Homo sapiens: one gene and its partner. The protein of the gene in region 1 interacts with the protein of each later gene in a pairwise test. Each region holds a gene or a part of one and is shown in the gene's direction. Other genes may lie near its edges. The genes, in order: DPH1 and TFCP2.

Evidence for each region.
Region 2: the proteins of DPH1 (region 1) and TFCP2 interact in binary tests that used the Homo sapiens proteins (3 or more experiments, as listed by UniProt).

The regions. Positions count from the first base shown.
Region 1 is NC_000017.11:2,025,093-2,038,981, forward strand, and holds the start of DPH1 (2-(3-amino-3-carboxypropyl)histidine synthase subunit 1), read left to right. Parts: upstream 1-5,060; 5' UTR 5,061-5,062; coding exon of another isoform or gene 5,063-5,077; coding exon 5,078-5,138; intron 5,139-8,412; coding exon 8,413-8,565; intron 8,566-8,686; coding exon 8,687-8,750; intron 8,751-10,877; coding exon 10,878-10,999; intron 11,000-11,436; coding exon 11,437-11,594; intron 11,595-11,742; coding exon 11,743-11,864; exon of another isoform or gene 11,865-12,246; intron 12,247-13,889. UniProt on the Homo sapiens protein: Catalyzes the first step of diphthamide biosynthesis, a post-translational modification of histidine which occurs in elongation factor 2.
Region 2 is NC_000012.12:51,102,281-51,118,632, reverse strand, and holds part of TFCP2 (alpha-globin transcription factor CP2), read left to right. Parts: coding exon 1-12; intron 13-885; coding exon 886-962; intron 963-2,212; coding exon 2,213-2,318; intron 2,319-7,649; coding exon 7,650-7,756; intron 7,757-9,359; coding exon 9,360-9,512; intron 9,513-11,286; coding exon 11,287-11,397; intron 11,398-12,019; coding exon 12,020-12,108; intron 12,109-14,429; coding exon 14,430-14,478; intron 14,479-14,869; coding exon 14,870-14,963; intron 14,964-16,352.

The DNA.
Region 1 (13,889 bases):
CGCGCGCTTGCTCAGCCCCGGGGCGAGCGGCTTGCTCCGCGGAGCCGGCGGCCTGCTTCTGCCACCCGGAGCACTTCGCAGGCGGTTTTGAGGGGGGACGCCGCCCCCTGGCCGGCCGGCCGCAGCCCCCTCCTCTCCGCCCCCTCGGACCACCGCCGCCGCGGCTGCAGCAAAAGGGCGCTCGCACGCACCGCCGAGCTCCGGGGAAAGCGCCCGGCGCGCGTTTGCAGGACCGAGCGATCGGCGGAGCGGGGCGCCTCCCTTCCTCCCCCCGGCTTCCCCCTCCTCTCCTCCTCCCTCCCTCCCTTGCTCTCTAGCTCCCTCCCTCTCGCTCCGCTCCCCGCCCCCGCTCACGGAGCGCCTCCCATACAAAATTTATGAAAGTGCTCTCAGCTCGCAGTGCCGAGCGCCGTCCTATTCCCAAGGCAGCAGCGCTCAGCCGCGCGGCGCCGCCTCCCAAGGTGTTTTCACTGCGCCCGCCCCCGGGGAAGATGCTCGGCCCGCGTCCGTCCAGGCACCTGCCCCCAGTCCCCAAGCCGGTCCTCGGACCACTCCACGCCCCTCCCCGGCCCCGCAGGCCTCCTGGAGCCCGAACCCGCAGCCCAGCCCCCGCCCGCTCGCCCTTCGCGGCTGGAGGTCATCGGGAGACGCGGCTGGGACGCGAGGACCGCCGCCCAGAGTACGGATCGCGAGTCCGCTCCCTGCCCCGTCTCCTCCCTGGCCAGCGCCCCTTCTCCCAGTCTCGACGGCTCTTCCCCGCACTGAACAGCTCCAGCGAACCCGGCTGCCCCGCACCCCGAGTCCCAGGACACTGTTCTTTCGTGGGGAGAGGAGGGGAGCAAGCATTCGGAAAGGGCCAGCTGCAAATTCCAGGGAGAAGGAAGGACCCGTGCGGGTTCGGGTGGGCCGTCTCCGCCTGGGTGGGGTGGCGGCGGGGGGTCTCTGATCTCCCTTGGTCCACACAGACCCCGCCGGGGGGTTCGCGGAAAATGGAGGAGGCGCCGCTTGGAAAGCGGGTCCCGCAGGGGCCTGTTGAGCTGAGGGAAGAGAAGGTTCGGGCCAGGCGAGATCCTGGGTGGAGGCGGCACCCCCTGCTGGCCTGGGATCAGAGGGATTCGGAGAGAAGAAAAAGCGGATGGACCAAGGCTGTCATTCAACACACATTCACCGAAGGCTCAGCATGTGTGGGGCACTACTGTTCCTGAAAATTCAGCAGACGAAAAAGACTTGTCTTTGCCCTGTCCTCAAGGAGTTTCCATTTTAATAGGGGCCAAATGAGGAAAGTCCAGAGAAGATGGGAAGATTGTGCTTCGAAGAAAAACAAGCAGAGTATTGTTCTGGAGCTGACACGGGGGTAGAGGTGGCAGTCAAGGAAAGCTGCTCTGAGCAGGTGACATCCAAGCAGAAATCCAACTGAATCCCTCCTTGTAGGAAAAGGTGACATGATAGGAAGGTCAAAAAGAAGGTCAGGGCCGGGCGCGGTGGCTCACGCCTGTAATCCTAGCACTTTGGGAGGCGGAGGCAGGCAGATCACGAGGTCAGGAGTTCGAGACCACCCTGGCCCGCATGGTGAAACCCGGTCTCTAATAAAAATACAAAAATTAGCCGGGCATGGTGGCAGGCGCCTGTAATCCCAGGTACTCGGGAGGCTGAGGCAGGAGACTCGCTTGAACCCGGGAGGCGGAGGTTGCAGTGAGCCGAGATCGCGCCACTGCACTCCAGCCTGGGTGACAGAGTGAGACTCTGTCTCAAAAAAAAAAAAAAAAAAAGGGCCAGGCTGGGCGCGGTGGCTCACACCTGTAATCCCAGCACTTTGGGAGGCTGAGCAGATCACTTGAGGTCAGGAGTTCGAGACCAGCCTGGCCAAGGTGAAACCCCGTCTCTATTAAAAATACAAAAATTAGCCGAGCGTGGTGGTGTGCGCCTGTAATCCCAGCTACTTGGGAGGCTACGGGAGAATCTCTTGAACACAGGAGATGGAGATTGCAATGAGCCGAGATCACACCACTGCACTCCTGCCTGGGTGACAGAGCGAGACTGTCTCAAAAAAACAAAACAAACAAAAAAAAAGAAGGCCAGTCTGACGTATTCACTCACACCTGCATTTGGTGGCACTGAAGCTTCAGATTTGAGCTAAGGCTCTGGGCTTGGACTTCCAGAAGCTTCAGGTGTCGTGGGAAAAGAAAGACCCGCAAACCATCTTAGAGTGTGACTGACAGAAGTCACAAAGACTGCGAAAGGGCTCTGCTAGCTCTGCCAGGGGCTACCAGATAATCAGGAAACAGTCACAGAAGAGGTGCCCTTGGAGTTAGGTCTTGAAGGCTGAGTTCACCACACTAAGAAGGGGGAAGGGCATTCCACGTAGATGCTTGAAGGTGAGAAGTAACCTTGTTCTGAAGATAGATAAGATTGGTCCTTCCTGAGGACCATGGGCTCACACCTATAATCTCACCACTTTGGAAGGCTGGGGTGGGAGGATTGCTTGAGGCCAGGAGTTTGAGACCAGCCTGGGCAACAGTGTGAGACTCCATCTCTATTTCAAAAAAATGTTTAAAGATAAAAAAAGATGGATGGCTGCTACTCTGGGCACACTGCCCATGGCCACAGGAGCAGTTAAACACGAACAAAAAAAGATTGGTCCCTCTTGGCGTAGAACAGAAGGTGAGGTATTCCTTCTCTTAGCCACCAGCTACAAGGCAGTGCTCACCCCACTGCCTGCCTTAGCCCTGACACTGGGAGCCTGAGAGGTCCTCTGTAAGTACACCGAGGCCCAGAGAGGATGAACAACTTGCTCAACGTCACATCACAGATCAGCGATAAAGTGTGGGCCTGACTCAGGGCCTGAATGTGGGATAATCCTCCTTCCACCTCTCCAAGCCGCCTCCCCATGACCCCCTAGCCCACAAACTCTAGCGTCTTAGGAAAAGTTGGCTGGGGCTGGGCGTGAGTGTGAGAAGCAGAGTTATTTCAGGCCTCAGGAGGGTTGGGTGCTGCCTTGGAGTCCAGCCAGGGAGTGGGGGCGAGTGAAGGCGGGTGTTGTGGTGTACTGTGGGGGTGCACTGTGCCCGCCTTCTTGTCAGGCAGTAATTACTCAGACTGCTGAGTAACTCAGGCAGGGAGACCCCCACAGACAGATGGAGGTGCCCTCAGCCCAAGCTGAATGGCAGCCCCCAATGTCCTGCACCACGGAGTCTTGGGGAAGCATTCTCACATCTGTTCTTCATGTCCAGTTCTCCTAGGCATCATCCGGCTTCCTAATGGGGGCCAGAGCAGCTCATTAGGCACAGCGGGTGCGGGGCAATGTTACTAGAGGGATGGGACTTTTGCCATCAAACAGGCCCCACCTCTGATGAGGGAAAGGTCCCAAGGGATATGGCGCCTGCTAGGGAGAAGCCATTGCTCAGTTGGAGCCAGTCCTTTCCCCTTGAAACTCCATGCTGCAGTCACAGCTAAGGCTGTCCACAGGCTGGGCAGCAGTGTCCTGAGAGAGGAGGGGCTGAGCTCCCAGAATTCAGATCTTGCACCCTGGGGATCCAGAGAAGCTGGGGGGAGATGGGAAGGTCTAGTCCGGACGCTTATCGAGTTGAGGGGAGTGTTCCTGGGACCCACATTGGTCACTTTTCTGTCTAGAGCTACCTGTCCTAAGAGTGCCGGTGGCCTGGGGGGCACAGCACTGACCCTTGGTGATGGTCCCTCAGCTGCTCACTCCCTGCCTGTCCAGCCATTCCTCCTCTCTGGGCAGCCTCCCAGGCAGGGCCTGTCTCTGGCTGCTTGTTTTTACTTCTCCCTGCACCTTAATTAGGGGTTTCCAAGCAGGGAGGGCCTCTGGGGGAGCCCGAGGACACAGAGCTGACTTAAAGGGCCAGCTGTGATCACAGCACCACCGCAGAGAGAGGAGGAGGATGCCAGGGGGCTGGGTAGACCGTCAGACCTGGAAGACCATTGTTCCACGGGACAGACTGCTGAGGGCCAGTCCTGCAGGTACTTTGCTCTTCCACAGGTCAAAGCCGTCTCACTGGCTGTCTTCTCTTTGGGGTCTCTGGGGCTCTGGCCAGTGATCAGGAGAAAGACCAGCCCTGAGGGGCAGGGCAAAGGTTGGCCAGGGTCCAGAAGGGTTAGACATCACAGTCCTCCACTGCCCACCTTCCCAGGAAAGCACCCTCAGGCTGTGGGCCTTCCCCAGAGGGGCAGTTTCTACAGGGTCTACGCAGTGGATTCTAAAGGTGATAAAGGCTGGGTGCAGTGGCTCGCGCCTGTAATCCCAGCACTTTGGGAGGCCAAAGTGGGAGGATTGCTTGAGTCCAGAGGTTCAAGACCAGCCTGAGCAAAATAGTGAAACCTTATCTCTACTAAAAAAAAAAAAAAAAAAAAAAAAAAAAATTAGCTGAACGTACGCCTGTGGTCCCGGGTACTCAGGGGGCTGAGGCAGGAAGATGAATTGAGCCCAGAAGGTTGAGACTGCTGTGAACCATGATCGCACCACTGCACTCCAGCCTGGGCGACAGACCAAGACCCTGTCTCAAAAAAAATAATTTAAAAAGCTGATAAGGGCGATCCACAAACCTGCACCAAGACTCTCAACTTGGAGCTGGGCTGGTGGTCCCTGAGTTCTGTCCTGCCGGACAGTAGAGTCCCCCTAGGTAGGGAACGTGGCCCCACACGGCGGCCGGGTGACCGACCACTGCTTACCAGGAGGGGAGACTGGCAGGGGGGGCTCAAGGAACATCTGGTGGGTGTCCCCTTCACAAGACTCGGCCTGCAGAGTTCGTGCAGGGAGTTCGCACATAGGAGAGCACCGGTCCGGGAGTGCCAGGCTCGTGCCCGGCCGGGGAGAGGAGTGGGAGACTAAGTCGCAGGGCAAGGGCAACTGCATAGTCGGGGACCTCTAGGGAATCCTGAGTCCCGGCATTCTGGGCTGGGGTGGAGCCCACTACAGCCCCGCCCCTATCTCCTCCTTTATGGCCCCGCCCAGCGGGTATCCCCCGCCCCCGCTGGCCGATCGGCGATCGATCGCAATGTCTGCGCTCTCCGCGTTCTTCCAGCGCTGTCTTTTTAGTACCACATGCGCAGGCAGGTGATGGCGGCGCTGGTCGTATCCGGGGCAGCGGAGCAGGGCGGCCGAGACGGCCCTGGCAGAGGTGGGTGCTGGAACGCTGCGCCCTCCAGACCTCGCATCTCGGGGCGGGGCCCCCAAGTTAGGGACAGGACCAACCCCCTTTAACGGCGGCGGCGCCTTTCTCCGCTAGATCCCGCTGTTAGTCGCCTTGGGCCGCTGTCACCAGCTCGGGGTCGCTGTCAGCCGGAGCCCAGGGGTACCAGTCTTTTGCAGCTTTAGGGCACGACCGAGAGCAGCCCTTAATCCTCCAATCGGAAACTACAGCCTTGTCTTGGCGGGTAGACGGATAAAATGGACTCGACGGGGAGGGAAAGGGCCAGGCCAGATGCAGCGGGCATTTTACGAGTGCGCCCTCAGGGAATGCTTTCAGGGAAGAGGCAAAAGGTTTCATTCGCCAGGCATTAACTGAGCGCCCACCGAATGCCAGGCCTGCGCTGGGTGCAGGTACTAGAATCAGAGATCTCAGTCTACTGGGGGAATGTTAATGTAAACATATCATAGCCACGTGATAAAGGAGGAGGTGCCTACTGGTCCCTGGGACACATTGAAGGGCTAATGTTAGCAGTTCCTTACACGCCAGCGACCACTAGGGACCTGTCAGAGGAGGATCTGTAATGGGCCTAGGAAGCCTAGGCTGATTGTCCAAGGCTTTTGAAACAACTGGCCAAAAACCATAGCAGTGGTAACGTTCAAATCTGATCTCAGGGCCCCAGCCTCCGCTGGACCATCCCCACCGCCGCCCACACAGTGGGTGAAGCCTCATGTCTGGGCGGGTCCCTCCTATCATAGTGTGGGGCCCTAGCAGAAGTTGTGGCACATAGCACAGTCTCAATACATATTCGTTGAATAAGTTAATTTCTTGCCTTTTCATATCCTCAGACTCTGTGGCTCCTGAAGAGATAACGGGGTTGAACTAAGCTTAATTGTCGGGGCAGGGCATAGTGGCTTACACCTTTAGTCTGAGCACTTTGGGAGGCTAAGGAGGATTGTGTGAGCCCAGGAATTCCACACCAGTCTGGGAAACATAGGGGGACCCTGTATGCACAAAAAAATAAAAAATAGCCGTGCGTGGCCGGGCACGGTGGCTTACACCTGTAATCCCAGCACTCTGGGAGGCTGAGGCGGGCGGATTACCTGAGGTCAGGAGTTTGAGACCAGCCTGGCCAACATGGTGGAAACCCTGTCTCTACTAAAAATACAAAAATTAGCCGCGTGTGGTAGCACACGCCTGTAATCCCAGCTACTCGGGAGGCTGAGGCAGGAGAATTGCTTGAGTCCGAGAGGCTGAGGTTGCAGTGAGCCGAGATTGCACCACTGCACTCCAGCCTGGCCAACAGACAGAGTGAGACTCTGTCTCAAAAAAAAAAAAAAAAAAAAAAATTAGCCCTGCGTCTTGGCACATGCCTGTGGTCCTAGCTACTGGGGAGGCTGAGGTGGGAGGATTATCGTTTGAGCCCAGGACGTCGAGGCCGCAGTGGACCATGATTGCACCCCTGCACTCCAGCCTGGGTGATGGAGTGAGACCCTGCCTTAAAAAATAATAAGATGAATTGTTTATTCAGCTTATTATTTTTTATCCTACTTAGGAGTAGGATGAGACCAGAGTAAGAGTTGCAGTTTGCTAAGGGCTACGGTTTCCCCTTTACTCCAGGAGTTGTAATTATGTGTATACCTGTCTTTTCCCCCACTAGACTGCTGGTCTCTAAGGGACAAGGTCACTTTTCTGTCCTTACTGGTACGTCCACCACCCTGACTCAAGTGTTCTTTCCATCCTTCCTGGTTTAAGAGTAAGGAGGAGCAATGGGACAGCTAAGTCAGTTAAATGTATGATGTTTATTTCCCTTTTAAATGAGGAGAGGTAAGCGTGAAAGAACGAACAGTGTGGCCACAGTCAGTGGGGTTCTGAGTCAGGAGGGCAGTCTTTTAAGTTAGTATTCATGTTTAACGGTTTGCTTATAGACCTCATATCTAGAAGCTCAAAACTTCAAGGTGTCCTCAGGAGGTGGGAGAGGGGGGACATTCTCCCAGGCTGGCTGGGCTGGCTAGACTGACTCTTAGGTTTTCCGCAGGGCTGTTCTCTATCAGGGAGCAGTATATGGACTCAGACTCATTCTTTGCCCCTTAGCCCCTGGTGTCACCTCTGTTCTCCTGAGGAAGAAGGTGAGCCATATTCTATTCATGGGCTCAAGTCTTCGATTCCCAGTGATTTCACAACATGGAAATTATACCGGTTACCTTCTGGCTTAATGAATTGTCTCTACCTTCAGGATGAATTCAGTGAGAACGAAAGCTGGGCCAACCCCCTTGGTGTCTGGATCTGGCCCTTAAACTTGGTGGAGTTAACAGCTTAGCTGGGTCTTGTTACCAAACTCAACTTGGGTCTTCCCATCCACACAAAGCAAAAGCCAAACACTGACATGGAGATTTGCAGGGAGAGAACAAGCATTTATTGTAAGGCACCAAGCAGGGAGACTGGGCAGCTAAAGCTTAAGACCTAAACTTCCTGATGGCTTACAAGCAAAGGGTTTTTATTTTATTTATTTATTTATTTTTGAGATGGTGTCTCGCTCTGTTGCCCAGGCTGGAGTGCAGCGGCGTGATCTCGGCTCACTGCAAGCTCCGCCTCCCGGGTTCACCCCATTCTCCTGCCTTAGCTGGGACTACAGGTGCCTGCCACCAGGCCCGGCTAATTTTTTGTATTTTTAGTAGAGAGTAGTATTTCCCCGTGTTAGCCAGGATGGTCTCGATCTCCTGATCTCGTGATCCGCCCGCCTCAGCCTCCCAAAGTGCTGGGATTACAGGCGTGAGCCACTGCGCCCGGCTGCAGAGGGTTTTTAAAGGCTGGGCTTCTGGGGATCTTTAAAGTGAATTAAGGGCTGGGGAATTTCTGGAACTTTCTTACCTATTTTCTGGCTTCAGTCTGTCTGAGGTCTTACATGACAGCAATTAGTTGGCATTTTTCACCTGGTGGGGGGGTGGGTGTCCTGGTTTCTGAAAAACAACTTAGGGATATATGTCAAGGTGTTATGTGTAGTTTCTATAGGGAACCAGGCATCTCGTGACTCTGACTTGGGTGACTGTTGTTTATTATCTTCTTGTTTAGCAAGTTATTTAATTCCCTAATTGCTGGTTGTAGGGCTAGCTAAGATGCCTGGGATTTTTCTTGAGATGACTCAAAATTTTTATTTCTATGCTTGAGCGGGGGCACCGGCAGGCCCTGAAAAGGGATCCCTATTCCATCTCAATCTGGCTTCAGCCAAAGACAGACACCAACTCAGGCCTTATATCCATTCTAGGTCGGGCCCCTCGGGGCCGCGTGGCCAATCAGATCCCCCCTGAGATCCTGAAGAACCCTCAGCTGCAGGCAGCAATCCGGGTCCTGCCTTCCAACTACAACTTTGAGATCCCCAAGACCATCTGGAGGATCCAACAAGCCCAGGCCAAGAAGGGTGAGCCTGTGATCATTGAGCTGGGGTTGGGGTGGAGAGGTTGCCTGGCCCAGATGGGACAGTGTCCCCCTTGCAGCCCCTTCCTAGCCCTCCACCTCTCATGTCTCTGCTCGTCTTGCAGTGGCCTTGCAAATGCCGGAAGGCCTCCTCCTCTTTGCCTGTACCATTGTGGATATCTTGGAAAGGTGAGGCTTGGGGCACTGGAGAGGAGGGTGAGCCAGGCTTCCCCCACCCCCTATGCTCATTACCCGGGTGGGTAAAGCCCTGGTGGCGGGCATTTTTTCCTTCTGAACCTCCACCTTCCCCCTTTCCCTCCCACAACCATACACACACTCAGGGAAAACCCAAAACAAATCTCCCAGCTTGCTGAGAGCCCTGCTTGTCCCTGCAAATCCCCCCTCCCCTAAACATTTGGGACAGAGAAAGAAATCAATCCCAGTGTCTTCAAAGCTAGACCCAGAGCAGGTGGTAGGACCTGGGGAGGACCCTAAGAATTCTCCAAGCTGCCCCTGAAATGCGCTGAGTGATCAGTGGGAGGTCTGCCGGTCGGGGGCGGTGGGGGGCACCTGTTCCTCGGGCACATTTGGGGAAGTAGGGCAAGGATGGGTTTGGAGTGGGAGGTGCCTGGGAGAAGGTATTCAGTTCCTCTACATCCTACCCCTGTCACTCTAAGTTTCTGCAATACAATGAGCCATCCTTGGTGGGGAGGGTGAGAGCTCAGCCATCTGGAACCAGCACAGGAACAGGGGAGGGGAACGAAGAAAGGGGAGGTCATCTCATGCTGGGAACCTCCCACTCCCCTGCTGCCCCATCGCCCTCCCCTGCTCCTCCCTCCCCCTCCCCTTCTCCCCCATCCCCCTCCCCTGCTCCCCCATCCCCTGCTGCCCCATCCCCCTCCCCTGCTGCCACCCTCCCTCCCCTGCTCCCCCAAACCTCTCTTCTCCCCCCTTCCCCTCCCCTGCTCCCCCTCTCTCCCCTCCCCTTCCCCCTCCCCTGCTCCCCCTCCCCTCCCCTGCTCCCCATCCCCCTCCCCAGTTTCCCCATCCCCTCCCCTGCTGCCCCATTCCCCTCCCCTACTCCCCCTTCCCCCTCCCCTGCTCCCCCCTCCCCTGCTGCCCCCTCCCCTCCTCCCCCACTCCCCTGCTGCCCCATCCCCCTCCCCTGCTGCTGCCCCATCCCCCTCCCCTGCTGCTGCCCTCCCTCCCCTGCTGCCCCATCTTGTTGCCACAGACTCACTTCCCTGCTCCCACCGTCTTGCCCCTTGGGGATGCTCTCTGGGGCTCAGGCCAATTTGCATACATTTTAATCTATAAAAAATTAAGTGCTGTGGCTGACTTAGACGCCTGGGCTGCATTCTAAGGAGGTGAATAATCTGCTTCTGGGCACAGCCTGATTTGGGGAAGGGGGTGGAGGAGGGGGTGACTAGCAGGAGCTCAACTCTTCCACTGCCACACCCCCAGGGGAAGGATGGGGGGACCCCAGTCACTGAGCCAGGCTCCACGCCCCAAGTGTGAGTCTCTTTCAAGGAAGAGGGGGTTCTCCTCCATTCCTAGGGTGAGTTCAGGGGTACAAGGTCTTCCCCACCCACCCCCTCCCCCAGTGATTCAGGCCTGGCAGCAGTTCCCACGGCAGTGTTCTGGCCAGAGCCTCCTCTTCCTGATGCAGGAGGCGTGTAGGTGGTGCCATGTGCTATGGGGGAGCTGTGCCTGGGTCCCCCCATCCTGGGCACCAAGGGCCCTGCCTGCGGTGGGGAGGTAGTGGGGGTCCGGACGAGAGGGCCCTGCCTGTGGTGGGGAGGTAGTGGGGGTCCGGGTGAGGGGGCCCTGCCTGTGGTGGGGAGGGGGTGGGGGCCCTGCCTGTGGTGGGGAGGGAGTGGGGGTCCCGGCAAGAGGGAGGCTGTGTGTATTCATACAGCCACGCCCATGCCCACCACAGCACTCAGCGCGGGAGTGAGGACCTTTGGGTGTGTGTGCGTGCTCACGGCTCTGGGTGGGTGAGTCAGGGCATGGGGCGTCTGTGTTTTGACCCCACGTGTGCCGGAGTGAGGGTTGGGGTCCCTCCTGCAGCCTGAGCCTGGGTAGAGGAATGAGGGTCCTCACGCAGCAACAGTTCCAGGAGCGGCTGCCAGGCTGGGGCAGGCGGCAGCTGTGCCCCTCCTAATCTTTGTTGGCAGAAGTGGCAGCTGCCATCCCGAGGAACTGGGAGAGGTAGGGAGAGAGGAGCTGGGCCCTGAGACACCCTCCCAGGGTTGGGTCTCTCCTACCTCAGTCCCTGTGTCCCTGTCCCACCGTTCCCCGCCCCTGTGCCCGCAGGTTCACGGAGGCCGAAGTGATGGTGATGGGTGACGTGACCTACGGGGCTTGCTGTGTGGATGACTTCACAGCGAGGGCCCTGGGAGCTGACTTCTTGGTGCACTACGGCCACAGTTGCCTGAGTATGGTGGGGCCAGGACACCTGGACGGTGGCGGGGCTGGCAGGGAGGCAGGCTGCACATTCATCTTCCCCATGGCAGTGCCTTCTTGTCCTGCTTGGAGACACAAGGTCCCTCCTGGTTTCTGGGGTGGCCTCTGCCTTCCCGCTCTGCAGGTAGATCTTTCCTTTGGATTTGGTTGCCTTGGCAACGGTGCTCTGTCCCAGATGCAGGTGTTTGAAAGGCTGTTGGTTGTAGAGCAGGCTGGGCCCCGGCCGGGTGACAGAGAAGTCTGATTGAGAAGGAGCTTCTAGGGGATCTGTGACCCCCCTCTTCTCCTACCCTGTCCTTTTACCCCCAGGCTGAAGCCACTGCGCCTGGCTGCTCAGAGACCTGAGCCTGGCCGGGCCCTCTGCTGCTCCTGCCTTCCCAAACAGCCCCTGAACTCCTCCCTCCCACAGTTCCCATGGACACCTCGGCCCAAGACTTCCGGGTGCTGTACGTCTTTGTGGACATCCGGATAGACACTACACACCTCCTGGACTCTCTCCGCCTCACCTTTCCCCCAGCCACTGCCCTTGCCCTGGTCAGCACCATTCAGTTTGTGTCGACCTTGCAGGTGGGTGGAACGAGGATCCTCGGCCTCCTGCAGGGTGGACAGCGGCCACTCTCCAGCTGTTGCGGGATCCCCAGGTGCTCCAGGCTGTTTCTCAGCCCTGGCTCTCCTGCCCCAGCCGCTGGCTTCACTTCCCTCGTCATTCCTACAGGCAGCCGCCCAGGAGCTGAAAGCCGAGTATCGTGTGAGTGTCCCACAGTGCAAGCCCCTGTCCCCTGGAGAGATCCTGGGCTGCACATCCCCCCGACTGTCCAAAGAGGTGGAGGCCGTTGTGTAAGTTAAAAATGGGGGCCAAGTAAGTCCTAGAGACATGCGTGTACCCTGGGAGGGAGCCTGAGGTTCATCATCCAGGAAAGAAACCAAATCTAATGCTCCTTACCTGTGAGCCCGAGGTCACACTGCAAGGTAGGGACCAAACAGGGAGCAGACCTCAGGTTTACTGTCGCTTTCTCCACTGCCCAGTCCATCATCCAGAAGGCTGTGCAGGGTGGGGGCAGGAATCAGAGGGCCTGATGGGGGTTGAGGGTGGGCTGGAAATGGTGGGAATATAATTGGAGAAGATGGATGGGCACGCCCAGGCTGCAGCCCCATTAATTTACCATCCGGACAGCTAACAAGCAGAAGCAGCGTGTCTCCTGCCGCCTAATTATTTTAGGTAATGGAAATGCTTAATGTTGTGTGAATGCAGCCAGCCTGAGAGCCGACGGCTCCCCCGACTGGGACTAGGGAAGGGAGTCCCGTTCCGTACTAATGGCAGGGAGGGAGGGTCGCTCCCTGACTCAGTCCCACCTCTGGGGCTTTGGAGGCTGTTTCCACAGGCCTGACACCCCTGTCCCTAGACAGGCCCACATCAGGGCCTTCCCCAGCCCAGATCTGGCAGCCCTGCTCCCCGAGCAGCACTGAGTGGCATTCCCCCTGTGCCCACGTCACTCAGTCTCTACCCTTGGGGTCTTCAAAGTGTATGTTGGAGGGAGGGACACCCTGAGTGTTAGCCATTCATCAGAATGAAGTGTGGTCTCCAAGAGGGAGAGAAGGAGCTGCCACAGGCAGGTTATCTTCCACGCTCTGTAATCTTCATGGGCTGGGAAGCTACTGTCAGGGACAGCATGTCTGGGGGCACACTTGGTACAGCCTGGGTTGAGCCTCAGACACACTGCTTCCTAGCTGTTTAATACTAGGCGAGTTTCTTAACATCCCTGAGCCTCAGTTGTTACCTTCTGTAAAACAGGTATACTATACGTATCTGGGAGGATTAGGAGATAGGACTGCGTGAACTAATTCACAGCAGGTACTTAGTCTATGCCTGGTACACAGAAGGCACAAGTCCAATAAACAGTAGCTGTTGGCCGGGCACAGTGGCTCACGCCTGTAATCTCAACACTTTGGGAGGCCAAGGCAGGAGAATTGCATATGTCCAGGAGTTTGAGACCAGCTTGGGGAATATAATGAAACCCTGTTCTCTCCAAAAAAAAAAAAAAAAAAAAAAAAAAGAATTAGCTGGGTACAGTGTCCATGCCTGTAGTCCCAGCTCCTCAGGAGGCTTAGGTGAGAGGATCGCTTGAGCCTGGGAGGTTGAGGCTGCAGCGAGCCATGACCGAGTCACTCAACCTGGGTGACAGAGTAAGACCCTGCCTCAAAAAAACAAAATGAAAATCCGGTAGCTTTTGTTATAACTCAGTAACTGGCCCCAAGAGCTAGTTTGGGCAGAAAGTAGCCATTGTATGCCCTGCAACCTCATGTACAGCATAGATCAGAGGTCCCCAACCCCTGGTCCCATGTCCTGTTAGGAAACCTGCCGCACAGTAGAAGGTGAGGGGTGGGCCAGCCAGCGTGACCACCTGAGCTCCGCCTCCTGTCAGATCCGCCGCGGCATTAGATTCTTGTAGGAGCTCAAACCCTATCGTGACCTGTACATGCGAGGGATCTAGGTTGCATGATCTTTATGAGATCCTAATGCCTGATGATCTGAGGTGAGACAGTTTCATCCTGAAACCATCCCCCAATCCCACCCGTGTCTTCCACAAAACCTGTTCCCAGTGCCAAAAATATTGGTTACTGCTGGCGTAGATGACTCCTTGAACACTACTGTCCACATCTGTATTGAGCTTGTGAAGGAGAATCTGTTCCCCAACTTCCAAATGAGGATCTCTAGAACCCCAGGTGGCCTCACCACGGCCGGCTGCTCCTTCACTCTTCCTCAGAAGCTTGGGGTGGGACGGTTCTTAGATTCTGCATTATGTAAATAGAGGGACCGTAGAGTCATCCAATTCAAACTCCTTATTTCACACGTGAGAAAAC
Region 2 (16,352 bases), on another chromosome or scaffold:
ATCTCAATCAAGGTTAGATGCTTCCTCATTCATTAGTACTATTGCAGACCTACTGTATTTATGATTTTTTTGTTTGTTTGTTTGTTTTGAGACGGCGTCACCCAGGCTGGAGTGTAGTGGCGCCATCTTGGCTCACTGCAAGCTCTGCCTCCCGGGTTCACACCATTCTCCTGCCTCAGCCTCCTGAGTAGCTGGGACCACAGGCACCCGCCACCACACCCGGCTAATTTTTTTGTATTTTTAGTAGAGATAGGGTTTCATCGTGTTAGCCAGGATGGTCTCGATCTCCTGACCTCATGATCCGCCTGCCTTGGCCTCCCAAAGTGCTGGGATTACAGGCGTGAGCCACCGTGCCCGGCCATTTATGATGTTTTATTAGGTACACTTATATGTAAAAACTTAGATCTTTCTAGTGTGGCCTATCAAACTAGAAGTCCTACTTCAGAGATTTGAGTTCTAATGTCATACTTGATATCTATTACTAGCTTCTTTTGCTTAGCTGTCCATTTTTAGTGTCCAGCTTCCTCTTCCTAATCATATTCCCTAGACACTCCCATTGGTTACTGTCTGAGAAGTATTACTCTACCTGGCTCTATTATTTACCAATTGTGTGGCCTTGGACAAGTTGCTAAAACTCTTTTAAGTTTCAATTTCTTTGTCTGTAAAATGGGATTGATAATACCTTAGAAAAGTATATCAGTTAAATGAGATAATGTGACAATACTTAGCACAGTGCTGAGCATCTTGTAAAGGCTTCTGATTGTTGTTACTAATACTAATAATATTATTATACTGTTGTATATTCAACCAACTGAATTTTATTCTTTCCGAATCTAGCAAAGTTAATTTGTGGTGAATATAATATGTAATTACTTTTTCTTCTAGGACAGTCTTATGAAATTCGAATGCTAGACAATAGGAAACTTGGAGAACTTCCAGAAATTAATGGCAAATTGGTGAAGGTAAAACGAATAAATCATTCTTCTGTACAATATTTTTTACTAATCCTTTTGGGATTTTAAATTTTGTTGTTGTTGTTAATGTTCTTTTGCTTCCAATGGCTTAATGGTATCTCTTGCCTGCAGTAATTTGTTGGCAGAGTAGTAAGCTGATGTGTTATTTCTTTGGGGTCAGAGTAAGCCCCAGTATTCACATGAATTTTTCAGAGCTGCAGAAATAGAACGCTTACCACTCCCTGTCCAGGGTAATCACCCCTGGCTCAGTGAAGTTCTTTTGGGTGGAGTAAAGTAACCTCCTTGAGATCTTTAGAGAAGCCTCAGTGTCTTTTTTGATACTTAGTCTTATAGCAAGGAAAACAGAAGCTACTTTGATGAAGAGCAGTTCTCTTAGTCTAGATTAACAGTTAGGATTTTGATAATTCACAGCACAGTTGAAACAGAGGAGTTTTGTCAAAAGGTGGTGGGAGGAATTAATAGGCACTTCTACAAAGTAAGAGTAACAAAAGGAAAGTTGATGGAAACAGGCTCTACCTACCCTCAGTGTTTACAGGTTGTATGGTGGGTTAGCAAGCGGGGGAGTTGGTGAGTTTTTCATATACATCTGAAGAGCTAAGCCAGATAGGCCGTGGTATAACAGAAGAGGTGTGCAGAAACGCTTCAGACAGGAGTACTTTATTCCTAGTTACCATCGGACTGAAGTTTAAGCCAAGTTTTAAATATGGTACCAGTTAACTATAAAGATTCTATCTGAGAAATTGGCTGGACCCGGTGGCTCACGCCTATAGTCCCAGCACTTTGAGAGGCTGAGGCGGGCGGGTCGCCTGAGGTTGGGAGTTTGAGACCAGCCTGACCAACATGGAGAAACCCTGTCTCTACAAAAAATACAAAATTAGTCAGGCGTGGTAGCACATGCCTGTAATCCCAGCTACTCAGGAGGCTGAGGCAGGAGAATTCCTTGAACCCGGGAGGTGGAGGTTGCGGTGAGCCGAGATCACACCATTGCACTCCAACCTGGGCAACAAGAGCAAAATCTGTTTCAAAAAAAAAAAAAAAGATTATATCTGAGAAATTATAAAATTTTATCCTGAAATAGCACTTAGTATGGTATGGGTTTTAGAGTGAAACAGATCTTAAGAAAAATAATTTTAGATTGCGTTTAGAAACAAACTGGCAGTGAATCCTGCTAGTTTTTCTTTGTCAGCACTGATTTTCAAGAGGTCTTGTTATCATCTGATTTTGTTGTATCCTTTTAGAGTATATTCCGTGTGGTGTTCCATGACAGAAGGCTTCAGTACACTGAGCATCAGCAGCTAGAGGGCTGGAGGTGGAACCGACCTGGAGACAGAATTCTTGACATAGGTGAGTTAAGAGAATCTATTGCCTAGGAAATGCCTTTAGCTATGGACCCAGAGTTGGTTTTCTTTATTTGACATTTACCTTGATTCATATGCTTGAGAGGCTCAATTAGTATAAACCTTGAAATTATTTACTAAGCATAAAAAATTTTAAGTAATACAAGTTAAAATGATATCAAAATTGAAGTTGGAAGTGTAAACACTTTAGTTCCATAGCAACTATAGGTTGATTTTGTTGTTTTTTAAGTTGTGGTAAAATATACATTACATAAAAGTTATCATTTTAACCATTTTTAAGTGGATAGTTCAGTAACATTAGGTACATTCACATTATTGTGTAACCATCACTATCATCCATCTCCAGAACTTTTCTCATCTGCAAAACCAGAAGTCTGTACCTGTTAAACAACAACTCCCCATTCTCCCTTCTTCACAGCCCCTGGTAACCACTATTCTCCTTTCTGTCTCTATGAATTGGACTACTAAGTACTGCATAAATGAAATCATACAGTATTTGTCCTTTTGTGACTGGCATTTTTCACTTAGCATAATGTTTTCAAGGTTCATGGTATAGCATACATTAGCATTTCCTTCCCATGCAAGGCTGAATAATACTCCATTGTGTGTATATATCACACTTTGTTTATCCATTCATCCCATGATAGGCACTTAATTTGATTCCATTTCCTGGCTATTGTGAATAATGCTGCTATGAACATGGATGTACAAATATGTGTTTGAGTCTCTGCTTTTAATTCTTTTGGATACATATCCAGAAATGGAATTGCTGGGTCATATGGTAACTCTATCTTAGATTTTTTTTAGAAACCACTATATTGTTTTCCACAGTGACTACACATTTTACATTTCTACCAGCGGTACTCAAAGGTTCCAATTTCGGCCGGGCGCGATGGCTCACGCCTGTAATCCCAAAACTTTGGGAGGCCAAGGTGGGCAGAACATGAGGTCAGGAAATCGAGACCATCCTGGCTAACATGGTGAAACCCCGTCTCCACTCAAAATACAAAGAAATTAGCTGGGCGTGGTGGCGGGCGCCTGTAGTCCCAGCTACCCAGGAGGCTGAGGCAGGAGAATGGTGTGAACCCGGGAGGCGGAGCTTGCAGTGAGCCAAGACCACGCCACTGCACTCCAGCCTGGGTGACAGAGCGAGACTCTCTCAAAAAAAAAAAAAAAAAAAAGGTTCCAATTTCTCCAATCCTTGTCAACACTTGTTGCTTTCCTTTTTTTTTTTTTCCTGAGATGGAGTTTCGCTCTTGTTGCCCAGGCTGGAGTGCAATGGCGCGATATCAACTCACCACAACCTCTCCCTCCCAGGTTCAAGTGATTCTCCTGCCTCAGCCTCCAAGTAGCTGGGATTACAGGCATGCACCACCACACCTAGCTAATTTTTGTATTTTTGGTAGAGACGGGGTTTCACCATGTTGGCCAGGGTAGTCTCAATCTCTTGACCTCTTGATCTGCCCGCCTCGGCCTCCCAAAGTGCTGGGATTACAAGCGTGAGCCACCACACCTGGCCTGTTGCTTTCTATTTTTTGATAATATCCATCCTGATGGTTGTGAAGTAGTATCTCATTGTGGTTTTGATTTGCATTTCCCTGGTGATAAGTGATGTCAAGCATCTTTGCATGTGCTTATTGGCCATTTATATATTTTCTTTCTTTCTTTATTTTTATTTATTTATTTATTTATTTTTGAGATGGAGTCTCCCTCTGTCGCCCAGGCTGGAGTGCAGTGGCATGATCTTGGCTTACTACAACTTCCACCTCCCGGGTTCAAGCGATTTTCCTGCCTCAGCCTCCTGAGTAGCTGGGATTACAGGTGCCCGCCACCACACCCAGCTAATTTTTGTGTTTTAGTAGAGACAGGGTTTTGCCATGTTGGCCAGGCTGGTCTTGAACTCCTGACCTCAGGTGATCCACCCGCCTTGGCCTCCCAAAGCGCTGGGATTACAGGTGTGAGCCAAGGCTCCCGGCCCATCATTTATATATTTTCTTTGGAGAAATGTCTGTTCAAGTCTTTTGCCCACTATCGAATTGGATTGTTTTGTTTTTTTTGTTATTGAGTTGAAAGAATTTTTAAAATATTCTGGATATTAACCCCATAGCAGATATATCACATGCAAATCTTTTCTGTTATTGTGTGGGTTGCTTTTTTACTGTGTTGATACTATCCTTTGATGCACTAAAGTTTTACATTGAGGTGGTCCAATTTATCTAATTTTTTTTAATTCCCTGTGCTTTTGGTGCCACATCCAAGAAATCATTGCCAAATTCAGTGCCAAGAAGCTTTTCCCATATGTTTTCTCCTAAGAGTTTTATAGTTTTAGGTCTTATATTCAGGTCACAGGTCCATTTTGAGTTCGTGTTTGTATATGGTACAACCATATACAAAAAAGGTTGTATGGTAAACCATATACAGAAAGAAGGGCCCAACTTCATTCTTTTGCATGTGGATACCCAGTTTTCTCCACACCGTTTGTTGAAAAGACTGTTCTTTCCCCCACTGAATGGTCTTGCACCCTTGTCAAAACTCATTTGACCATATATTTGAATACTTATTTGTAGGCTGTCTATTCTATTCCATTTGTTTAAATGTCTGTCTTTATGCCTATACCTCACTATTTTGCTAAGTGTAGCTTTATAGTCAGTTTGGAAGTCGTGAAGCATGAGAACTCCAACTTTGTTCTATTTCACGATTGTTTTGGCTGCTCAGGATCTGATATTTTGTTTTGCGTTTGTAAAGAGGGGCAGACTTTTTTCCCCAGCATGCTGAAAGTTCCTTCATTTTACTAGTGCCTGAGAACCAGGCACTATAAAGTGGGAGTTCTGGTATTAGAAGCTATGTCACTTGGTTTGCAGTTAAGTTGTGTCTTCCCACGTTGCTACACAGAGTAGAATTTGTTTTTCCTAAGTCATAGGGTATAAAGGAAAGATCTTCACAAATACACATGCAGTCACTTTTCATGGTGTCTGCCTCTCTGATTTCTAATTGGTTAAAATTTCCTTTTGGTAAACATAGTTGTTAAGAAAAATTTAACTGCTACTAATTTTACCTGAGAAAACATTGGTTCTCATGCAGTGATCCTGATATCTGTATGATAAGTTGACCTTAAGATGAATCTAACACAACTAATATTGTGGAGTGGGACCCACTTGATGCTCTATTGTTTGAATCATTGATACCAAAACAGTAGTATAGTTAATACCACAGTTCTGATAATACATATTACCTGGCCTTAACTCCCCAGTTTGATCATTAATAGGAGAAATCAGGGAATGCTATTTGAATATCTGCTGTGTGGAATGGAAAGAAAAGTTCTACTCAAACCCATTAATTCTTGCTTCCCTTTTAAGTAAAGATTTGTCACTCTGTTATAGGATTATTTGATGACTTGGTAAGTCAGCATCAACCATCTTTTTTTTTTTTTTTTTGAGACAGAGTCTTGCTCTGTCATCCAGGCTGGAGTACAATGGCATGATCTCGGCTCACTGCAACCTCTGTCTCCCGGGTTCAAGCCATTCTCATGCCTCAGACTCCTGAGTAGCTGGGATTATAGGCATCCACAACCACGCCCAGCTAATTTTTATATTTGTAGTAGAGACAAGTTTTCACCATGTTGGCCAGGCTGGTCTCGAACTCCTGACCTCAAATGATCCACCCGCCTTGGCCTCCCAAAGTACTGGGATTGCAGGCGTGAGCCACCACGCTTGGCCTGCATCAATCTTTATGTTAAAATTTTCCCACTTTCATTCATGATATAATGCTTTCTACCTTCATATAGACACTCTGCTGCACCCCTTCAATAGCAATACTCTTAATGTGCTTTTGGCAATGAAACTAATTTTCAAACTGTAGTTGAAATAGATTATAAATTACAGTTTTCATGATAGTGTAGACTTAATCCACCTTAAATAGGATTTTAACAAATTAAAAGGAAACTGCCTTTAAATTGCCATATTTTAAGCTAGAAGGAGGATACTAAACATTCCCAACACAAAGAAATGACAGATGTTTGAGACAATGAATATGCTGATTACCCTGATCTGATCACTATGCATTATATGTATTGAAACATCACTATATAGCCCATGAATATGTACAATTATTATTTCTCAATTTAAAAATGATTTTTTTGTTTTTCGAGACAGTCTTGCTCTGTCACCCAGGCTGGAGCACAGTGGCGCAATACTGGCTCACTGCAACCTCCGCCTCCCTGGTTCAAGCAGTTCTCTCTGCCTCAGCCTCTCAGGTAGCTGGGATTACAGATGCCCACTACCATGCCTGGCTAATTTTTGTATTTTTTAGTAGAGACGGGGTTTCGCCATGTTGGCCAGGCTGGTCTTGAACTCTTGACTTCAGGTGATCCGCTCACCTTGGCCTCCCAAAGTGCTGGGATAACAGGTGTAAGCCACCACGCCTGGCCTAAAAATAATTTTTTTTTTTGAGATGAAGTCTTGCTTTGTCACCCAGGCTGGAGTGCAGTGGCTCGATCTCCGGCTCACTGCAACCTCCACCTCCCAGGTTCAAGCAATTCTCCTGCTTCAGCCTCCTGAGTAGCTGGGATTACAGGTGTGGGCCACCACGGCCGGCTAATTTTTGTATTTTTAGTAGAGATGAGGTTACGTCATGTTGGTCAGGCTGGTCTCGAACTCCTGACATCATGATCCGCCTGCCTTGGGCTCCCAAAGTGCTGGGATTACAGGTGTGAGCCACCGTGCCTGGCCAAATAATTTTTTTAATTGCCGTATTTTAAAAACTTTTTAAAGAGGAAAAAAGGTGCTCAAGCAAAGTACTTAAGTCAATTTTACTCTAATCAAATATTTTCATTGACAAAAAAGAAATTTAAGGTGTGGGCTGGGCACAGTGGCTCAAGCCTGTAATCCCAGCACTTTAGGAGGCCAAGGTGGGTGGATAACCTGAGGTCAGGAGTTTGAGAGCAGCATGGCCAACATGGTGAAACCCCATCTCTACTAAAGATACAAAAAAATTAGCCGGGCGTGGTGGCACGGGCCTGTAATCCCAGCTACTCAGGAGGCAGAGGCAGGAGGATCGTTTGAACCCAGGAGGCAGAGGTTGCAGTGAGCTGAGATGGTGCCACTGCACTCCAGGCCTGTTACCACTGCACTCCAGCTTGGGCAACAGAACAAGACTCCATAAAAAACAACAACAACGACAAAAAAAAAAAACAAAGAAATTTAGGATGTGATATACAAAAATCTTGGTAGCTACATTGAGTAATATAAGAATCAATGCTTTCTTATTTAAAACTGAGTGGCCCTCAAAATTGTTCAATGATTACCATTTTGTTTCTCAGATATCCCGATGTCTGTGGGTATAATCGATCCTAGGGCTAATCCAACTCAACTAAATACAGTGGAGTTCCTGTGGGACCCTGCAAAGAGGACATCTGTGTTTATTCAGGTAAGGCGTTGCAGATAGGGTTCCAGTTTTGAAGAGTATCTCTCTTACTATCAGTTTATTTCTTAAAGGATAAAACATGTTAACTTTGAAATCTTTACAGGGTTCTAGCCTGACTGTCAAGCCCAGGCTCTTTAACCTGTGCCTGAGAGCATTGAGGAGTTTCTGAATTGCTCTTCTAATACCCCAGTTTATTTATTTGTGTCTCCCAAAATTGCTTGGTAATGGCTGCATAATATTTCATTTCTTGGTTGTACCATAATTTACATAACAATTATTTGGCAGTTAGATTGGCATAATTTTTTTGGGGGGGGACAGTGTCTAGGCTTTGTCTCCCAATCTGGAGTGGAGTGGTGCAATCTCGGCTCACTACAACCTCTGCCTCCCAGTTCAAGCGATTCTCTTGCCTCAGCCTCACCAGTAGCTGGGACTAGAGGCGCATGTCACCATGCCTGGCTAATTTTTGTATTTTTGGTAGAGGTGGGATTTCGCCATGCTAGCCAGGCTGGTCTTGAACTCCTGACCTCAGGTGACCCACCCACCTTGGCCTCCCAAAGTGCTGGGATTATAGGTGTGAGCCACCATGCCCGGCCTTGATTGGCCTGATTTTTTACTATTATCTGTGATGTTATTTTGAACATATTTATACTTAAAATTTGATTTGCGTATCTGATTATGTTCTTTGGGTAGAGTCCTTGAAAATCCTTATTTGTAGTAATTATAGTAACCACTAGTTTATTAATACTTCACATGAAATAGTCACTATGTTAAGTAAACACTTTATATATATGATTTTAAGACTTTCAGCTATAATCTTGTGGAGTAGTCAGTCAGACAAGGTTCTTCTATTAAGATTCACCAGGCTGGGTGCCGTGGCTCACACCTGTAATCCCAGCACTTTGGGAGGCCGAGGCAGGCAGATCACCTGAGGTCAGGAGTTCGAGACCAGCCTGGCCAACATGGCGAAAACCTGTCTCTACTAAAAATGCAAAAATTAGCAGGGCGTGGTGGTGTGTGCCTGTAATCCCAGCTATTTGGGAGGCTGAGGCAGGAGAATTGCTTGAACCGGGGAGGTGGAGGTTGCGGTGAGCCGAGATTGTGCCATTGCATTCCAGCCTGGGTGACAAGAGCAAAACTTAGTCTCAAAAAAAAAAAAAAAAAAAATTCACCAATCTTAGACTTTATGCAGTAGCCAAGCAAACCTTTTTCTCCACTATTGCTGTGAACTTTCATATTTACTATGTTCCCAGACTGGGTAGTGACTCCTCTTTCTACAATCTTCCTTAAAATTGAGGAAACTTTAACTAACATAAATCATTTCTCTTTTGCTAGCTCTGTGTTCTTTGAAGCAGTTAATGAATTTAGTTCCTCACAGTAGCTTTTGTTAGCATTAGATCTGTACTTTTATTTTGTTTGCATTTGTAAAGCATTTTTCTATTTCCTCTATCAGATTGTAAGTTCTTCAAGATCAAAAAGAGGAAAAGTGTTTTTTGTAGGTATTCATAATGCCTGGTAAAGGTTTTGCTGTTAATAGTTGCTAAAAAAATACTGCCAACTGGTTTGGCTAGCTAGCGGTACTGAAGCCTTGCTGTTGTATTCTTTTCAGGTGCACTGTATTAGCACAGAGTTCACTATGAGGAAACATGGTGGAGAAAAGGGGGTGCCATTCCGAGTACAAATAGATACCTTCAAGGAGAATGAAAACGGGGAATATACTGAGCACTTACACTCGGCCAGCTGCCAGATCAAAGTTTTCAAGGTATTCCTGGGCAATGTGCTGGCCCTTGGATTCTTTTACCTTATCATTCTATTTTAACATTAGTTACCAAGTCAGAAAATCAACTTGTCTTTTTTTGAAAACTCACACACACGCAAAAAGTCTAAGCTAGAGTCATTGAAATAATTACCAAGATGCCTGGTAAAGAAATTTACATGGTCGTAGGATAATAGGAACTTGGAAAAGAGGGCTAGAGGCAAGAACATGGATTCTCATTGAAAGCTCTTAAAGCCTATTGAAGTTACAAGCTCTTGTAAAGCTCACAAAAATTGACTAGTTATGGTTATTTTCATACTTGATCTTTTCTTATTTGGTCTTATTTATTTATTTATTTATTTTTGAGACTGGGTTTCATTTTGTCACCCAGGCTGGAGTGCAGTGACGCAATCATAGTTTAACCTCCTGGGCTCAATTGATCTTCCTGCCTCAGCTTCCCCAGTAAGTGGGACTACAGGCATGTGCCACCACACCGGGCTAATTTTTGTATTTTTTATAGAGAGGGGGTCTTGCCATGTTGCCCAGGCTGGCCTTGAACTCCCGGGCTTAAGTTATCTGCCCTCCTTGGCCTCCCAAAGTACTGGGATTACAGGTGTAAGCCACTGTGCCCCAGCCAGGGTCCTGTTTATTTTTATCACATGAATAAATATGTTCTCATTGTAAGAGATTGAATAATACAGAGGTATTCATAGCAACACTGAAATTCTCCCTTTACTACTCTTACACTGACCCCCTCCACAACCTCTTCCCAGAGGAAACCACTGTCATAATTTCATAATTTCGTATGTGTTCTTCTACTTCCCTCTTCTTTTTTTTTTTTGAGTCGGAGTTTCACTCTGTCACCCAGGCTGGAATGCAGTGGTGCAGTGCCAGCTCACTGCAACCTCCGTCTCCTGGGTTCAAGCTGTTCTCACGCCTCAGCCTCCCCAGCACCTAGGACTACAGGCACACACCACCATGCCCAGCTAATTTTTTGTATTTTTAGTAGAGACAGGGTTTCGCCATGTTGGCCAGGCTGGTCTCGAACTCCTGACCTCAGGCAATCCGCCTGCCTCGGCCTCCCAAAGTGCTGGGATTACAGGCATGAGCCACTGCGCCCAGCTCTTCTAGTTCCTTCCTATGCTTTTATACACACACATACATAGCTATATACATATTTTCTTTGACACATAAATGGGATTATACTATTTGAAATGTTTTGAGGCTAGGCACGGTGGCTCATGCCTGTAATCCCAGCACTTTGGGAGGCCGAGGTGGGCGGATCACAAGGTCAGGAGTTTAAGACCAGCCTGACCAAAATGGTGAAACCCCGTCTCTACTAAAGATAAAAAATTAGCTGGGTGTGGTGGCGGACGCCTGTAGTCCCAGCTACTGGGGAGGCTGAGGCAGGAGAATAATTTGAACCCTGGAGGCGGAGGTTGCAGTGAGCCAAGATCTCGCCACCGCATTCCAGCTTGTGTGACAGGATGAGACTCCGTCTCAAAAAAAAAAGAAAGAAATGTTTTGAGACTTGATTTTTTTCAGTGAACTATGTGCTTTAGAGATCTTTCCATGTCAGTAGCTATAGATCTGATTCTTTTCAACTCCATCGAATATAAACATTTAAATTTCCTATTTTCAAACTTAAAGTGATGTGTCTTGCCTTTACATCACTGCACATACAATTTTGTTTCATACATGAATATTTAAGTTTTTGGAAGCAATATTTTGGGTTAAAAGGTGAGTACCTGAATTTAAAACAAAATATTTCTCATTTCAGCCCAAAGGTGCAGACAGAAAGCAAAAAACGGATAGGGAAAAAATGGAGAAACGAACACCTCATGAAAAGGAGAAATATCAGCCTTCCTATGAGACAACCATACTCACAGAGGTAAAAAGATTTCTTTTGGTGACAATTTCAGTTCATAATTTTTAATCTTAAAAATTCATCACTTCCAAACTGGTCAGAATTTACTTCTCCTAAGCCTTGAGGGACACAGTATCACATGGATTCTGTGTCCAGCGGCCTTAACAGGAAGATTGCTTTAGAATTTGGCACGAACCATGCCACTGTCTCTGTGTCCAAGTTATCTTTCCCCAAATTACTCTGGTTTGGTTTGGTTTGCTGCAGGAGCTATTGTGGTGTTCTTTGCTTTGTATACATAAGCACATCTCTTGCCCAAATAGAATTCAGTTTCATCTTGGGCATAAACCACCTTCAATTTTAGGAAGAGCTGTGTGCTGCCTTTGGTTCTGGAACCCACTTATAACCAACAAAAATGGCCTGGGACCGTAGTTTTCTAGACTTATTTCTTTTTAGAAGTCCTATTCTCAGCAGGCCTCCCCACAGGCTCCAAGATGGCGGAAAGAGAAGCAGTGTTCTCTATTGCTTATGGGAGTCTCTGAGGAATTAAGATTTACTAATCAAGATGTGCTATTCAAGTAACAATGTTTTAGTCAAATCCTGGGGTCATATGTGCTCGTTCATTATCTAACTTATCCTTTGTTTTTAGTGTTCTCCATGGCCCGAGATCACGTATGTCAATAACTCCCCATCACCTGGCTTCAACAGTTCCCATAGCAGTTTTTCTCTTGGGGAAGGGTAAGTCTGGGAAATAAAATTGGCTTATATTTGTCCAAAATATATATTCTTTCATTACCTGTTCATAAACAAGATCTTTTTTAAATCAATAAGTATATCTATTTGGTCGTTCTTTGATGGATTTATATATTAACTGAGATTTGGAGTAGCTTCAAAAGAGATCGAAAGAGTTTTATATAGCCCTTTCTTCTCTTTGTGTTCTCCCCTCTCCCTCCTCCTCGTCTTTTTTCCCCCCACTAGAAAGTAGCATTTATGGTCAATTTTTAGTGGTTCAGGGACTGATGATCTGGGCTTTTTGCCTCTCCCTATTACTGCACATCTTGTGGTTATTTCATTTCCTGATCATACTTGCACCAGACAGTGGTCTTTGGGAACTGGAAACAATTGTACAAACACTAAAATTTGTTTTGTTACTTGTTAGGAATACTTCTAACACCTAATTATTATGAATCTTTGATAATTGGGGAAATAAGTTTGAAGATGATGGCTAAAATGAAGTTTTGGAATTATTTATGGGATACATTTAATCTTGCCTTATTATCTTTTACCATAAGAGATAATTGAAAGTTGGTACAGATGCCTACTCCAATTTTAAAAAGTAGCTGTATTATAGTCCAAGCATTTAACATGTATTTCACATAGCCATATTGAAACTTGAAATAGTTAGGCTACCAAATGTGCGAGTATATTGTTTGGTTGCAATGTTTGTGGTTTTGGATTTATTTAGGCTCTATGTCTGACCTACTTTTTAAAGGATTTAATTAAGGTAGCTTAAATATTTAAAACGTAACAATTAAGAATAAAAGTAGGTATTAGTTGTAGAGGGAATACATATAAGTAGGGCCCTAAGATAAGTTAATTACTAAGTTCGAATACCAAATTTGAATTTTGCAGCTAAGGCTAAAAAAGGAAAAAGATCTTTTTTTAAAAGAAAAAAAAATCTTAACATCCACATAGATGATACATTCTACTTATAGGTAATTCCAAATATGATATAGGGTTTAAGAGCTGTGTTTAAAAATTTTTCTCTTCTCTTTGTCGTGTACTTCATACTAGTTAAACTTTTTCTTCCATAAAAGTAGGCATTAGGGAAGAGGGACAATTCATAGACAAAGAACGTATAAAGAAAAACAGGCTGGGCGCGGTGGCTCACACCTGCAATCCCAGCACTTTGGGAAGCCAAGGTGGGCAGATTACGATGTCAGGAGTTCGAGACCAGCCTGGCCAACATGGTGAAACCCCGTCTCTACTAAAAATAAAAAAATTAGCCAGGTGTGGCGGCGGGCGCCTGTAATCCCAGCTACTTGGGAGGCTGAGGCAGGAGAATCGCTTGAAACCAGAGGGCAGAGGTTGCAGTGAGCTGACATCATGCCACTGCGCTCCAGCCTGGGCAAACGAGTGAAACTCCGTCTCAAAAAAAAAAAGAAAAAGAAAAACTGGAGTGTGGAGATAACCCTTGGATCATAAATTAGGCAGCACTAATTTTTGGGGCTACTTTAAAAATAATTTTTTTTGCCGGGCGCGGTGGCTCACGCCTGTAATCCCAGCACTTTGGGAGGCGGAGGCGGGCGGATCACAAGGTCAGGAGATCGAGACCATCCTGGCTAACACAGTGAAACCCTGTCTCTACTAAAAATATAAAAAAATTAGCCGGGTGTAGTGGCAGGCGCCTGTAGTCCCAGCTACTCGGTAGGCTGAGGCAGGAGAATGGCATGAACCCGGGAGGCAGAGGTTGCAGTGAGCCGAGATCATGCCGCTGCACTCCGGCCTGGGCAAGAGAGCGAGACTCCGTCTCAAAAAAAAAAAAAAAATTGTTTTTTATTTTAAATCTGTGTGATGATATTGCATTGCATAAATTTTCTTCCAATATTTTTCTTGTATATGTGTGCATATTTATGTATTTCCTACAGTAGTAATGTATTGATAAAATTTTTTATCCTGATATTTTTCATTTTATTTTTAAATTTTTTTCTTGATAATTATTCTTTCATAATTTTTCATCTTAGTAAATTTATGGTTAAATATTTTTATGCCATAATTTATCTCATCAGTCCCAATTTATTGAAATGTTGATATTTTCTTCAGTTTCCTCAATAATAAGAAAATATTGCTAATGACATAGTTTCTCCCCCTCCTCATAAAGTCTTTAGGTTAAACTAATAGAAAATTAAAGTATTGGGTCAAAGAATAAGAATGTGTTATGAGAGAGCACAGATTTTTTTTTAATCTCTAGCATGAGATTTATTGTGAAGCTGAGGAATGAAATAATGAGCCCCAGCATGTGTCATGGACTCATCCTTTCATTTTAAATGTTTCTTTAGAAATGGTTCACCAAACCACCAGCCAGAGCCACCCCCTCCAGTCACAGATGTAAGTCTAAAGTTGAATGTCAGTTACTTGCAATGTCTGGTAATACTTTGATGACTGTCCAATTCAGTAGAAATGCCCAACTTTTAGGGAGTATTATTCATTCATTCATTAAACAAACATTTATTGAATTTTGACTATGAACCAGATACTGTGCTAGGGACTAAAGATATGAAACAAGTAATGCAGGACCTTTCCATTTGAGCAGCTTATAGTCTAGTGGGGAAGAAAAGGATGGAACTCCTTGAGCATCTTGCATGGTTGGAGAAAGAGAAAACAACTTTCACAAACTAGGCCTGAGTATGGGGTTGTGTGGGGTGTTTGGCTATGTGTTACCTAATGGGGTAACAGACAAATCTATTTGGTTATCTAAAAAACGTGCTCTCCCTTTCAGAACCTCTTACCAACAACCACACCTCAGGAAGCTCAGCAGTGGTTGCATCGAAATCGTTTTTCTACATTCACAAGGCTTTTCACAAACTTCTCAGGTTAAATTTTCTTTTTCTTTTGTTTTCCCTAGCATGAAATTTTCCTTTGCATTCTAGGGCCTCCTGGTATCCATGGGAGAGTTGTGTGTGTATATGTGTATGAGAGATCTTACTGCATTTTTCTGATGAAATGAATTTCATAGAACCCTTAAGACTTTCTCACTAGCTGCAGCTGTGCTGTGAAATACTTAAAAACAAACACTTTTTAGTTTAAATTCAATTTAATTTAAAAATGCTTATTTCATACAACGCTTTTTAAAATGTATATTTCGTAGAGTTTTATCAAGGGGGCATTTGCAGGTAGTCTGAAATTTTCCCCTTGATATCACTATAATTTATTTCATTTACACAATACACTTTTATTTAGCTTTTTTTTTCTTTTTCTTTGAGATGGAATCTCACTCTGTCACCCAGGCTGGAGTGCAGTTGCATGATCTCGGCTCACTGCACCCTCCGTCTCCCAGGTTCAAGTGATTCTCCTGCCTTAGCCTCCTGATTAGCTGGGATTATAGGCACCTACCATCACACCCAGCTAATTTATGTATTTTTAGTAGAGACAGGGTTTCACCATATTGGCCAGGCTGGTCTCGAACTCCTGACCTCAAGTGATCCACCCTTCTTGGCCTCCCAAAGTGCTGGGATTACAGGTATGAGCTGCGGCATCTGGCCTATTTAGCACTTTTTGATGTGGTAGGAATACACAAATGGATGAGGCATACTTCCTGATCAAATAGCCCATTAATCATCTGGTATCCAAAAAAAAAAAAGCACCGAAACAAAACACAACTAATCGAATCAAAATAAAACTCTGAAAAAATGATAAATAGTTGTGATTTTGTAGATAAGTGTTCTGATAGTGACAGTAAGACGTTCATGGGAGGATTGGTGTTAGGGAACATGTGTGACACATGAGGTGAATCCAGGATTTATTTATATATTTATTTTTTGAGACGGAGTCTCACTGTCACCCAGGCTGGAGTGCAGAAGCACAATCTTAGCTCACTGCAACCTCTACCTCCTGGGTTCAAGCGATTCTCCTGCCTCAGCCCCCGAGTAGCTGGGATTACAGGCACCCACCACCACACCCGACTAATTTTTGTATTTTTAATAGAGACAGGGTCTCACCATGTTGGCCAGGCTGGTCTCGAACTCCTGACCTCAAATGATCCACCCTCCTCGACATCCCAAAGTGCTGGGATTACAGGCGTGAGTCACTGCTCCTGGCCCAGGATTTTTTTTTTAAGAGATGGGGTCTTGCTATGTTGCCCACGCCTAACAGTCTTGAACTCCTAACAGTCGATTGGCCTCAACAATCCTCCTACCTCAGCTTCTCGAGTAGCTGGGACTACAGGCATGTTGTGCCCAGCTTAGATAGTGGAAGGTTATTTC